2 separate regions of the Homo sapiens genome follow, and region 1 is linked to region 2. A link means that fine-mapping ties the variant in region 2 to the expression of a gene that starts in the linked region. Tissue or cell type: tibial artery. Region 2 holds a variant in brackets; the other region holds the start of a gene. All regions are shown on one strand. Distances are between the middles of the regions.

Evidence for each region. PIP is the estimated chance that this variant, and not a neighbour inherited with it, causes the effect.
Region 1: it holds the start of SIRT5, and the variant in region 2 is fine-mapped to the expression of SIRT5 in tibial artery (GTEx, PIP above 0.99). The same link has a PIP of 0.9 or more in amygdala, atrial appendage, sigmoid colon, subcutaneous fat, thyroid and whole blood.

What each region holds. Positions count from the first base shown.
Region 1 is chr6:13,571,679-13,577,155 of GRCh38, forward strand. SIRT5 (sirtuin 5) reads left to right here and starts at 2,923. Exons shown (of 10, transcript NM_012241.5): 1 at 2,923-3,066. It overlaps LOC105374937 (a long non-coding RNA gene), which reads right to left and starts at 2,756. Exons shown (of 2, transcript XR_926497.4): 1 at 2,287-2,756; 2 at 394-1,543. RefSeq lists a silencer at 2,476-2,995 and enhancers at 2,688-3,274, 3,206-3,685, 3,275-3,860.
Region 2 is chr6:13,667,270-13,672,746 of GRCh38, forward strand. The region is part of intron 2 of RANBP9 (RAN binding protein 9); the gene reads right to left. Among named protein-coding and RNA genes, the nearest start is that of RANBP9, 42 kb to the right of the region's middle. The variant A/G (reference allele first, on the strand shown) is at 3,050.

The DNA of each region.
Region 1 (5,477 bases), 96 kb before region 2:
AGCTTGACATGTCTGAATCTCACCAAAGGAAATAGGCAAAATTATTTTCCAGTGTATGTGCTTCTAAACTTTTCTGTCACCTACCCACATGTCCCAGGAAAACCTCTGTAAATAGGATGAGTTATCAATGAACTCTATCTTGCTTGTTTATTTTTTATTTTGTGCTGCTACAGACAGACTCATAAGCAGAAAGAAAAGGTCATTCGCCTCTTAAATTTTAGTAAAGATAGCCCAAGCCATTATCCTCTGAGTTTGAGGCTGCTTTTCCTGTGAGATTGTTCATTCATTTATTTAATATGTATTTACTAATTCAGCATCTACTATAAGGGATCCTGAGGTGCTGGGAATACCACGGGGAGCAAAACAAAACAAGAAGCCACCTTCACAGCCTGGTGGAGGAGAGAAACTTTAATCAAATACACAGAAATATATTTAAAATCTCAACTGGGATAAGTGCCATGGTGCTACAGGAGCTTATATTAGAGACAAGGGACCTCATGCAGTTGTGAGGGAGGAGGGTTTAAGAAGGCTCCCCCCGCCCCACCCCACCAAGGAACAATTGAATTGAGACTGGAAGGATGAGGGGAGTTACTGTGGAGGGGATAGGAAAAAGTCATCTGGGAAAAGAGAACGGCCTTTTAGAAGGGCAAGGCCATCGAGAAATTAAGCTGGAGTTGCCTGAAAGATGGAAAGGATAGTGGCTGATGTATCAAGATGAGGAAGTGGCTCGACATTGGTCAGGGAGAGGTGGCGTTTCCAAGTCTGGGAGAAGGGACGAGTTCCAGGGCTGGTATGTGGATGGCGGGTGCCTGGATCTTGATGGAATATAATGCCCCAGAAGTGGCAGAACCTGTGGGTGGTGAAGGCTACATATCGGGCCTGTGGACTGTGAAAGTTTGCAATAACTGGCACTGTCTCCCTCTTCTTCCAATTGAAAGGATTAACACACAATGGTCAATATGAAAGCACAAAAGAAATGGAATACACTTTAACGAGAATTGGTATGTGTAGCAGCTTGGAACCTTGTCTTTGAAGTCAAAGCACTTAGATTTAAATCCCAGCTCTACTGTTACTGGTAAATTGCGTTCTTTTCCTAGTCTGTATCAGTTGCAAAGAAAGCACACCAACTGGAAAAAACGGCAAGCGGGTTTCATTCCTGGCCAGGAATAGAGAAGGAGTAAACTTTCACTCTAAAGACCCCCTTCTTCCAGAGCTTTGGGAAGCTGGGGAATTGTAAGGCGTTAGATGTGGAGTGGGGAGGTATGCAAGCATATGCCGGGAGGAACTCTAGACGCACAGGTGCATTTCATAAACATGCCTCTTCATACAATGCACTATCAGAAAATGGCGGCGATTCTCTTCTACGGGTCGGGAGTTGAGCATATAATGATGTATTAATGATCTAAAAGTAACAAGGGGTGGCTGGTTCTGGTTTTCTCTGGTTCCTAGTAGGCCTTATCTTTCTCTGGTACTTGGCAAAGGGCAGTGAGGATCCCGGGCCAACCGCAGTTGTTTTAAGCTGGGTTACCTATAGATAAAGAGACTAGGAAAAAAAATCAAACAAACAAAACGGTTTAAAAAACAATGAGCATTTTCAGCTGTCTACTGTTTAAGAAAATAATGAGCTCTCAGTTTTGCCCTCTGAGCGATTTCTCCAGGACTGCCCTGGTAACACTACTACTCAACAGTTTTGTGCTTTGCGCAGTTACTTGACCTCCCTGGGCCTCGGTTTCCCCACCCATAAAGTGGGGATAACAGTACCTATTTCATCAGGTGGTGGGGACGATTTAAAATGGTTAATAATGTGCAGTTCTTAAAAGTGTCTGGCTCAGAATAAGCACCATACACGTTAGGGGGAAAAACAGCAGCCGGATGTGAGGCCCTCCCCAATTTCGTTACTCCATAAACCTCTGAGTTGCTGGTAACACCTGCAGGAATGAGAAGGGCCTCAACATGGGCTGAATTTCCAGCCAAACTGTGGGAAGTGGCTGAGATTTTAGGTAGGCAAAAAATGTTAATGTAACATTTTTGGCCCCCAAGTTCTCAGACCACTTACTTCCCTTTCTAGTCCACTGACATGCCCGCAAGCAATTCCATTCTGCCAAGTGGTGCTGGTGGCAAGCCGGAATCCAAGAAAAGGAAAGACTCCGATTTTAAGGGAACGGGGACATGCGGAGCCACGTGAGTCACTGGGTCCCAGAGCCACGGAAGGCTCTCAGCTCAGCAGTCAGAGTGCACTCGTCATTGCGTTCGAGGTTAGGTGGCCTAGCCTGGGAACCAACTCACCGTCATTTGAAATCGTTTTAGGGAAAATGACCCTAACATTTAAAATCCTCTCTCCTGAAGTTGTGTGGTCCAGCCGTTTGCTGAAGGAGGAAGCAAAGCCGGTAGTAACTCACTACATATTTGGGCAGTGGAATGAACCCTGGAAGCTGACAAAGTCGAAGCAAGTCACTGCGCCGCCCCCCACCCCCACCCCCACCCCAAATAAAAACAGAGAGACAATCCTTCAATTATAAAGAAGACCACGGCGCCCGGGTCTCCGGCAGGGGCCGCTGCAGCCGAGCAGAACGCTGAGCCGCTCCGCCCCACGGCCTCCTCTCCAGCCGGCGCGCCCGCCTCCCGCAGGTGCGTCTCTGCCTGCGCCGGGCCGGGGTCTCCGCGGCCTCTCCCGCTCGGGCTCCGGCTTCGAGGTCCCGACCAAGCACTGCTCTCGCGGGACTGCGCGCACCGCCCAGGGCCTGCCGCGGGCTCGCGAGCGGAGGTGGCACCGGTCCGCGGTGCGCATGCGCGGCCCGGCCTCTGCCCTGCGGTCCCGGGCTGGTGACTGGCTAGCGGTTGGAGGAAGGGATGTGGGGGATGGTGGGTGGGTACAGAGAGCTGGGAGGGAGGCACCCCGGGGGGCGGGGCGTGGGAGACTGTATTCGGGGGCGCGAGCTGCCCCAGGTGAGCCGTGGCTCAGGTCCGGAGCGCGGTCGGGACACAGCGCCTCTAGGAGAAAGCCTGGAAGGCGCTCCGGGGGTACCCAGAGCTCTTAGCGGGCCGGCAGCATGTGCGGGGCCCAAGGTCTTCCGGGCTCTGCGTGGGGGTCGCTGCGGCTGGAGACCAGGGAGGGGGATGGAAACGGGGTTGGAAAGTAATCCCACCCGAGCAGGTGGGCATGGGAGGCCGCTGTGCTGGGGAGCCCCGCGAGGGCTCCGAACAGAGCCTCCCTTTTCAGAAAGGTCACCCTGGTCATTGCAGCTGCCAGGGTGACCGAGGAAGGTGGCCGGGGTGGAGGCAGTGGGCGTGGAGAGGGGTCGGATTCCGGACGTAGTTTGAAGGTGGAGCCGTCAGGTTCTGCTGAGCAGCTTGGCTATGGGGCGTGCGAGAAGGGAAGGCTCAGGGCCTAGTCCCTGGGCACGAGTAGTAGCCGGGAGGATGAAGTCCCAGTGCTTCGGGGGGAGGCGGCTTGAGGACGGCTCTGGAGCTCAGGCTTGCCCGCGTGGAGTGGAAGCTGCCTCTTGGACACAGGGCGGGGAGGCCGCATGCAGTCTGGCGCGCTGGGAGGATGGGAGATCCAGAGGGGCAGGGCTGGAGGGGTAGGAGGAAAACCTGAAGAGGGTGGCGCCCGGAAGCCCGGGAAAGTGATGAACTGGGTCAGAGGCCGGGTATCAACAAATAGGAGGGTGGAGACGACCTTGAGGAAAGCAGGTGATGGAACGGGAGGGAATGGGGCCCCCTAGTGGAGACACCTGGGAGTGATGTATTGCATTTATTTAGCTCTTAGGCGTTCAAAAATTATTTATTGGGAGCCTGTACAACTTTTTGCAGTTCATTGCATTATCCTTAGCATGTATTTTGTTTTATATAAATATATATTTATATAATTATTTTTATTGACAAATTTATATATTTATAGCGTACAGTGTAATGTTTTGATATATGTATACATTGTAGAAAGATTAAATCAAGCTAATTGACATATCCATCACCTCACCTACTTATTTTTTGTGGTGAAAATCTACTCTCCTGGAAATATACAATACATCATCAACTATGGTCACCATGCTGTGCAGTAGATCACTAAAACTTACTCCTCTTACCTAACTAAAACTTTGTATCCTTTGACCAACATCCCTCCCTTCCACATCAGCCCTCTGCCAGGCCCCTGGTAACCATCATTCTACTCTGCTTCTATGAGTTCAACTTTTTTAGACCCCAAGTATATAAGTAAGATCATGTGCTGTTTGTCCTTCTGTGCCTGGCTTATTTTACTTGGCCTCATGTCCTCCAGGTTCATCCATGTTGTTGCAAATGACAGAATTGCCTTCTGTTTTAAGACTGTATAGTATTCCATTGTATATATGTGCCACATTTTCTTTATCCGGTCCTCAGTTGATGGATACTTAGTTGCTTCTATATCTTGGTTATTGTGAATAATGCTGAAAACAACACAGGAATGCAGCTATCTCTTCAACATACTGATTTCAATTCCTTTGTATATATACCCAGAAGTAGGATTTCTGGGTCATGTGGTAATTCTATTTTTAGATTTTGAGGAGCCTCCATACTGTTTTCCAAAATGGCTGTACTAATTTACATTCCACCAACAGTGTACCAGGGTTCCCTTTTCTCCACATTCTGGACAAAACTTGTTGTCTTTGATCTTTTTTATAATAGCCATTCTAACAAGCGTGAGGTGGTAGCTCAGTGTGATTTAATTTGCATTTCCCTGGTGGTTAGCAAAGTTGAGCGTTTTTCATGTATTTGTTGACCATTCATATGTCTTCTTTTGAGGAATACCTGTTCAGGTTCTTTGTCCATTTTTTAACCGGGTTATTCGTTTTGTTTTGTTTTGCTGTTGAGTTTTTTGAGTTTCTTATATATTTTAGATAAGAGCCCCTTATCAGATGCATGGTTTGCAAATATTTTCTCCCAGTCTGTGGGTTGTCTCTTTACTCTGTTAATTATTTTCTTTGCTGTGCAGAGGCTTTTTAGTTTGATGCAATCCCATGTGTCTATTTTTGCTTTTGTTGCTTTTGGGGTCCTATCCAAGAAATCATTGCCCAGACTAATATGGAGTTTTCACCTATGTTATCTTCTATTAGTTTTACAGTTTCAGGTGTTATGTTTGAGACTTTAATCTATTTTGAGTTGATTTTTGTATATGGTGTGAGATAAGGACTCAATTTTGTTATCCAGCATGTGGATATTCAGTTTTCCTGATGCCATTTATTAAAGAGACTTTCCTTTTCCCATTGTGTGTTCTTAGCACCTTTGTCAAAAATCAATTGACTGTAAATACTTGGGCTTATTTCTGGGCTTTCTATTCCTGTTCCATTGGTTGATGTGCCGATTTTTATGCCAGTGCCATGCAGTTTTGATTACAATGGCCCTATAATATATTTTGAGATTAGGGAGTGTGATGCCTTTGGCTTTGTTCCTTTCACTCAAGACTGCTTTGGCTATTTAGGGTCTTTTGCAATTCCATATGA
Region 2 (5,477 bases):
TCCATCTGTTCTCTCCATCTTTTTCTGTGTTCTTTTTAATTCTTATTTTTGTTTTATGGCCATTATTAGTTTTCTGCTATACCTTTTGGCAGTATATTAATGACTACCTTATTAAGATTTTAATGCATCTTTGATCTATTACATTCTTGATTAAGTTAGTATATGTATCACATGCTGGCAATGCAAGAAACACTTTTAAAAACCTATTTACAGTGATGTTCCACATAACAAATGTTTCGGTCAACAACAGACCGCATGTACAACAATAGTCCTATAAGATTATAATGGAGCTGTTCTATACAAGTGTGCCATTTTAAATCTTTTATACCACACATTTTTACTGTATCTTTCCTATGTGATGTATTTAGATACACAAAACCATTGTGTTACAATTCCCTATTGTAACACAATAACAAGCTATTCAGTTTTGTAGCCTAGGAGCAGAGCAATAGACCACACAACATGGCCTAGGTGTTTAATAAGCCATGTGGTATGGTCTATACCATTTAGGTTTGTGTAAGTACATTCTATGATATTCCTACAATGACAAAATCACCTAACCACACATTCTTCAGAACGTATCCCCATTCTTACGCAACACATTTTTTGTTACTGTTGTCAAAAATTAAAATTAAATAAAAAAGAAAGATCTCTAATTAGTAATCCAATTTCTACCATTAAGAATGAACTAAACCCAAAGCAGGTAGCAGAAAAGGAATTATAAAGATTAGGGGAGAAATAAGAGGAGAGACTAGAAAAACAATAGAATCAACAAATTCAAAAGTAGGTTCTACTAAGCAAGAAAAATAAAAGAAGACTCAAATTACTAAACATCAGGAATTACAAGAGTATTACTACTAAACTAAAAAGGATCATAAGAAAACAATTATTAAATACTATGAACAATGAATTACATAACCTCCTTTAAATGGACAAATTCCTAGAAAGACACAAACTACTGAAACTGCATAGTAATTTTAAAACACAAAGACAAGCCCGTGCTCAGATGGCTTCACTGGGGAAATCTACCAAACATAAAAATTAACATTAATCTTTCCCAGACTCTTCCAAAAAAGCTAGAAATACTTCCTAACTCATTCTACAAAGCCAGTACTATCTTGTTACCAAAACTAGATAAAGGCATCACAAAAAAACTACAGAAAAAATATCCTTCATTAATACAAATGCAAAAATCCTCAACAAATTACTAGGAAATCAAATCCAGCAACACATAAAAAAGATTATAAATCATGACCAAATGGGATTTATATCCCAAAAACATGAAGTTCGTTTAACAAACAAAAATCAATCAATGTAATATATTAAGAAAATAAAGAACAAAATCCATATAATCATCTCAACAGGCATAGAAAAAGAATTTCACAAAACTCATCACCCTTTCACGATTTAAAAAAAATCATGAAAAATCATGACTCAGCAAGCTTGAAACAGAAGGAAACTTCCTCACACTGATAAAGAACATCTATGAAAAATCCCCAGCTAACAGCATACTTAGTGGTAAAAGACTGAATACTTTGACCTTAAGATTAGGGACAAAAAAAAGGATGTCTTCTCTCACCACTTCTATTCAACATAGTACTGAAACTTCTACCCTGGGCAAGAGGGCAAGAAAAAGACATAAAAGCCATCAGATCAGAAAGCAAGAAATAAGCATCCTCTATTGACAGATGGCACAATTTTGTATATAGAAAATCCTAAAGAATCTCCTCCCCCAAAATTATTAAAAGTAATCAAGTTCAACAAGACTACAAGATACAAGATTAATATGCAAAAATCAGTTGTATTTCTACACACTAGAAATAATTTGAAAATGAATTTAAGAAAATACTTTCATTTGGAACAGAATAAAAAAAAAGAATACTTAGGAATAAATATAACAAAAGAAGTGTGAAATCTGAACACTAAAAACGACATTGTTGAAAAAATGAAAGAACTGCTAAGTAAATGGAAAGACTCCCCATGCCATATTCATGGATTTGAAGACTAAATGCTGTTAAAATAGCAATACTCCCCAAATTAATCTAGAGATTCAACACAAACCCTATCAAAATCCTAACTTGCTTTGCTGCAGAAATTGACAAACTGATCCTGAAATCATACACAAATGCAAGGGCCCAGTAGAGCCAAAATAATCTTGAAAAAGAACAAAAAAGTTGGAAGACTCACACATTCCAATTTTAAAACTCAATAAAAAGCTACAGTAACCAAGAGAATGTGTTGCTGGCTTAAAAACAGACATAGAGATCAATGCCATAGAATTGAGATTTCAGAAACTCTTGTATTCACGATCAATTAATTTTGTTATTGTTGTTGTTTTGCGACAAGTAAGGTCTCACTTTAACCAGGCTGCAGTGCAGTGGCATGACCACAGCTTACTGCAGCCTTTTTTCTCCCGATTAGGTGATCCTCACACCTCAGCCCCCGAGTAGCTGGGACTACAGTTGCATGCCACCATGCCTGGCTAACTTTTTTTCGCATTTTTTGTACAGACAGGGTTTCTCCATGTTGCCCAGGCTAGTCTCAAACTCCTGGGCTCAAGCAATACTGTCCACCTTGGCCTCCCAAAGTGTTGGGATTACAGGTGTGAGCCACAGCATCTGGTAGATGAATTGATTTTTGACAAGCAGGAAAAAACAATCCAGTGGGGAAAGAACTGGTTTTTTTTTTTTCAACAAATGGTACTGGGAAAACATACAAATGCAAATGAATGCAGCTGAGGTCGGGCACAGTGGCTCAAGTCTATAATCCCCGCGCTTTGAAAGGCCAAGGTGGTGGGTGGATCACTTCAAGTCAGGAGTTCAAGACCAGCCTAGCCGACATAGCAAAAGCCCATCTGTACTAAAAATACAAAAATTAGCCAGGTGCAGTGGCACATGCCTGTAGTCCCAGCTTCTCGGGAGGCTGAGGCATTAGAATTGCTTGAGCCTGGGAGGCGGAGGTTGCAGTGAACTCAGATTGTGCCACTGCACTCTGGCCTGGGTGACAGATTAAGATTCTGTCTCAAAAATAAAAAAATATTTTCAAAAAG[A/G]ATGTAGCTGGATCCCTATCTCACACCATATATAAAAATTAACACAAAATGGATTAGAGAGCTAACTGAAGAGCTAAAACTATGAAACTCTTAGATGAAAACACAGATGTAAGTCTTTCTGATAGTGGCTTAAGACAATGGTCTCTTAGATATGACATCAGAAGCAGAAGAAACACAAGAAAAAATAGACAAACTAGGCCAGGTGTGGTGGCTCATGCCTGTAATCCCAGCACTTTGGGAGGCTGAGGCAGGCAGATCACGAGGTCAGGAGATCGAGACCATCCTGGCTAACACGGTGAAACCCCGTCTCTACCAAAAATACAAAAACAAAATTAGACGGGCGTGGTGGTGGGCGCCTGTAGTCCCAGCTACTTGGGAGGCTGAGGCAGGAGAATGGTGTGAACCCGGGAGGTGGAGCTTGCAGTTAGCCAAGATCATACCACTGCACTCCAGCCTGGGAGACAGAGCAAAATTCCATCTTAGAAAAAAAAAAAAAAAAAAAAGTAGACAAACTAGACTCCATAAAATTTAAAATTTTTGTGATTTAAAGGATACTGTCAAGGAAACTAAAAGACAATTCACAGAATGGCAGACAATATATGCAAATCATATATCTGATAGGGTAACTTTTTACAGTATATATAAAGAACTCTTACAGCTCAATAAAAGGAAAACCCTACTAAAACAATGGGCAAAGGATCTGAATAGACATTTCTTCAAAGATGTATAAATGTCCAATAAGCAAGTAAAACTATGTTAATCATTAGTAATTAGAGATGCAAATCAAAAGACACTATGAGCTCTCATTTTACATACACTAGGATGGCTAGAATCAAGAAGATATGTGTTGACAAGAATGTGGAGAAACTGCAACTATCATAGCTGGTAGTAAGTAAAATGGTACAGCCACTTTGGAAAACCGTCTGGCAGCTCCTCAAAAAGTTAATCATAGGGTATCTATGACCCAGAAATTACACTCCCATTTTCTGCAATAAAAATGAAAACACATAGCCATACTATGTTACACAATTCTTCATAACAGCAATATTCTTAACAGTCAAAAAGTGTTTCCACCAACCAATGGATAAACAAAATGTGATATATTAATACAATGGAATATTAATTTGGCAACAAAAAGGAATGGAGTATTGATATATGATACAGCATAAATCAACCTTTAAAACATTAACCTTTAAAACATGTTAAGATAAAGAAGTCAGAAACGAGAGGTCACATTTTGTATAATTCCATTTATATGAAATGTCCAGAATAAGTAAATCCATAAAAACAAAATAGTTAGTTGCTGCCTGGAACTGGGAGGAGTGAGTGTTTTGGGGTTCCTTTTTCAGGTGACAAAAATGTTTAAAAATTAAATAGTAAGGGTTGCATAACTCTGTGAATATAGTAAAAATTACCAAATTGTGCATTTTTAAAGGGTGAATATGTACATGAATTATACATCTCAATACAACTCTCATTAAAAAAATAAAGATGACAACTTTGTTCCACTCTATTACGTAAACAGCTTGGAAATCATCACTCCCATCCTCACAAGAAAAAAAGCAGAACAACTGAAAATCAACTACTCTTAGAAGCACTGGAAAACTGAGTTCACAGGTCACAACACCTCCAGAAAAACTGAAGAAACATGTGAATATAGACATATGGAGCTATATTTACTCTAAAGCCAATAACTGGAAGGAACACTTTAAAAGTAAGTAGCAAACTGCTGGAGACTGAGAGTGAACTAACTTGAGCTTTAACTTGTGAGGGCTCAGTCTTAAGGAAGAATATAGGTGAGAAAAGGAGCTCCACCTGGTTTTTATTAGAGTAAAATCCCTCCATTTTGAGTAGGGAAAAGGGAAAAGTAACCATTTTGAAATCTGACCTAGAGTAAGAGCAATAATTCCAGCCCCCTCTAACCTGCCTGAGAGGAGGGAAGAAAAAAGCTTAAGAAATTCTTTTGAAGGTCCGTTCAGGAACTCTGGTCCACTAAAAAACCCAACAGATTTCATCATATGATTATAGAACACTTCTCCTCTCTACTAAACAGGGCTCCAATATAACAGATTACAACTGAGAAAATTACAAGAAATAGACTTTTTTTAATTAATAAAAGTTTCTAAGGAAACTCAAAACAAGACAAAAACCAGGAAAGTAGAGGAAAATGAAATGTCTTATACCTACAAACAATATAAATACCTAGTGAACATTAAACACAGCCTAACTCCCAGCCAGATAAACCTAAAATCTCACATTAAACACCTGTTTACCTGAGTTTCTACTACTCAATAAGCCATGTCCAGATTTCAACAAAAAATTGCAAGGCATGTAACAGGCAAGGAAAAGGTCTGAAGAGACAAAGCAAGCATCGAAACCAAACTCAGATAAGGTAGATTTTGAATGATCAAACTGGACATTTTAAATA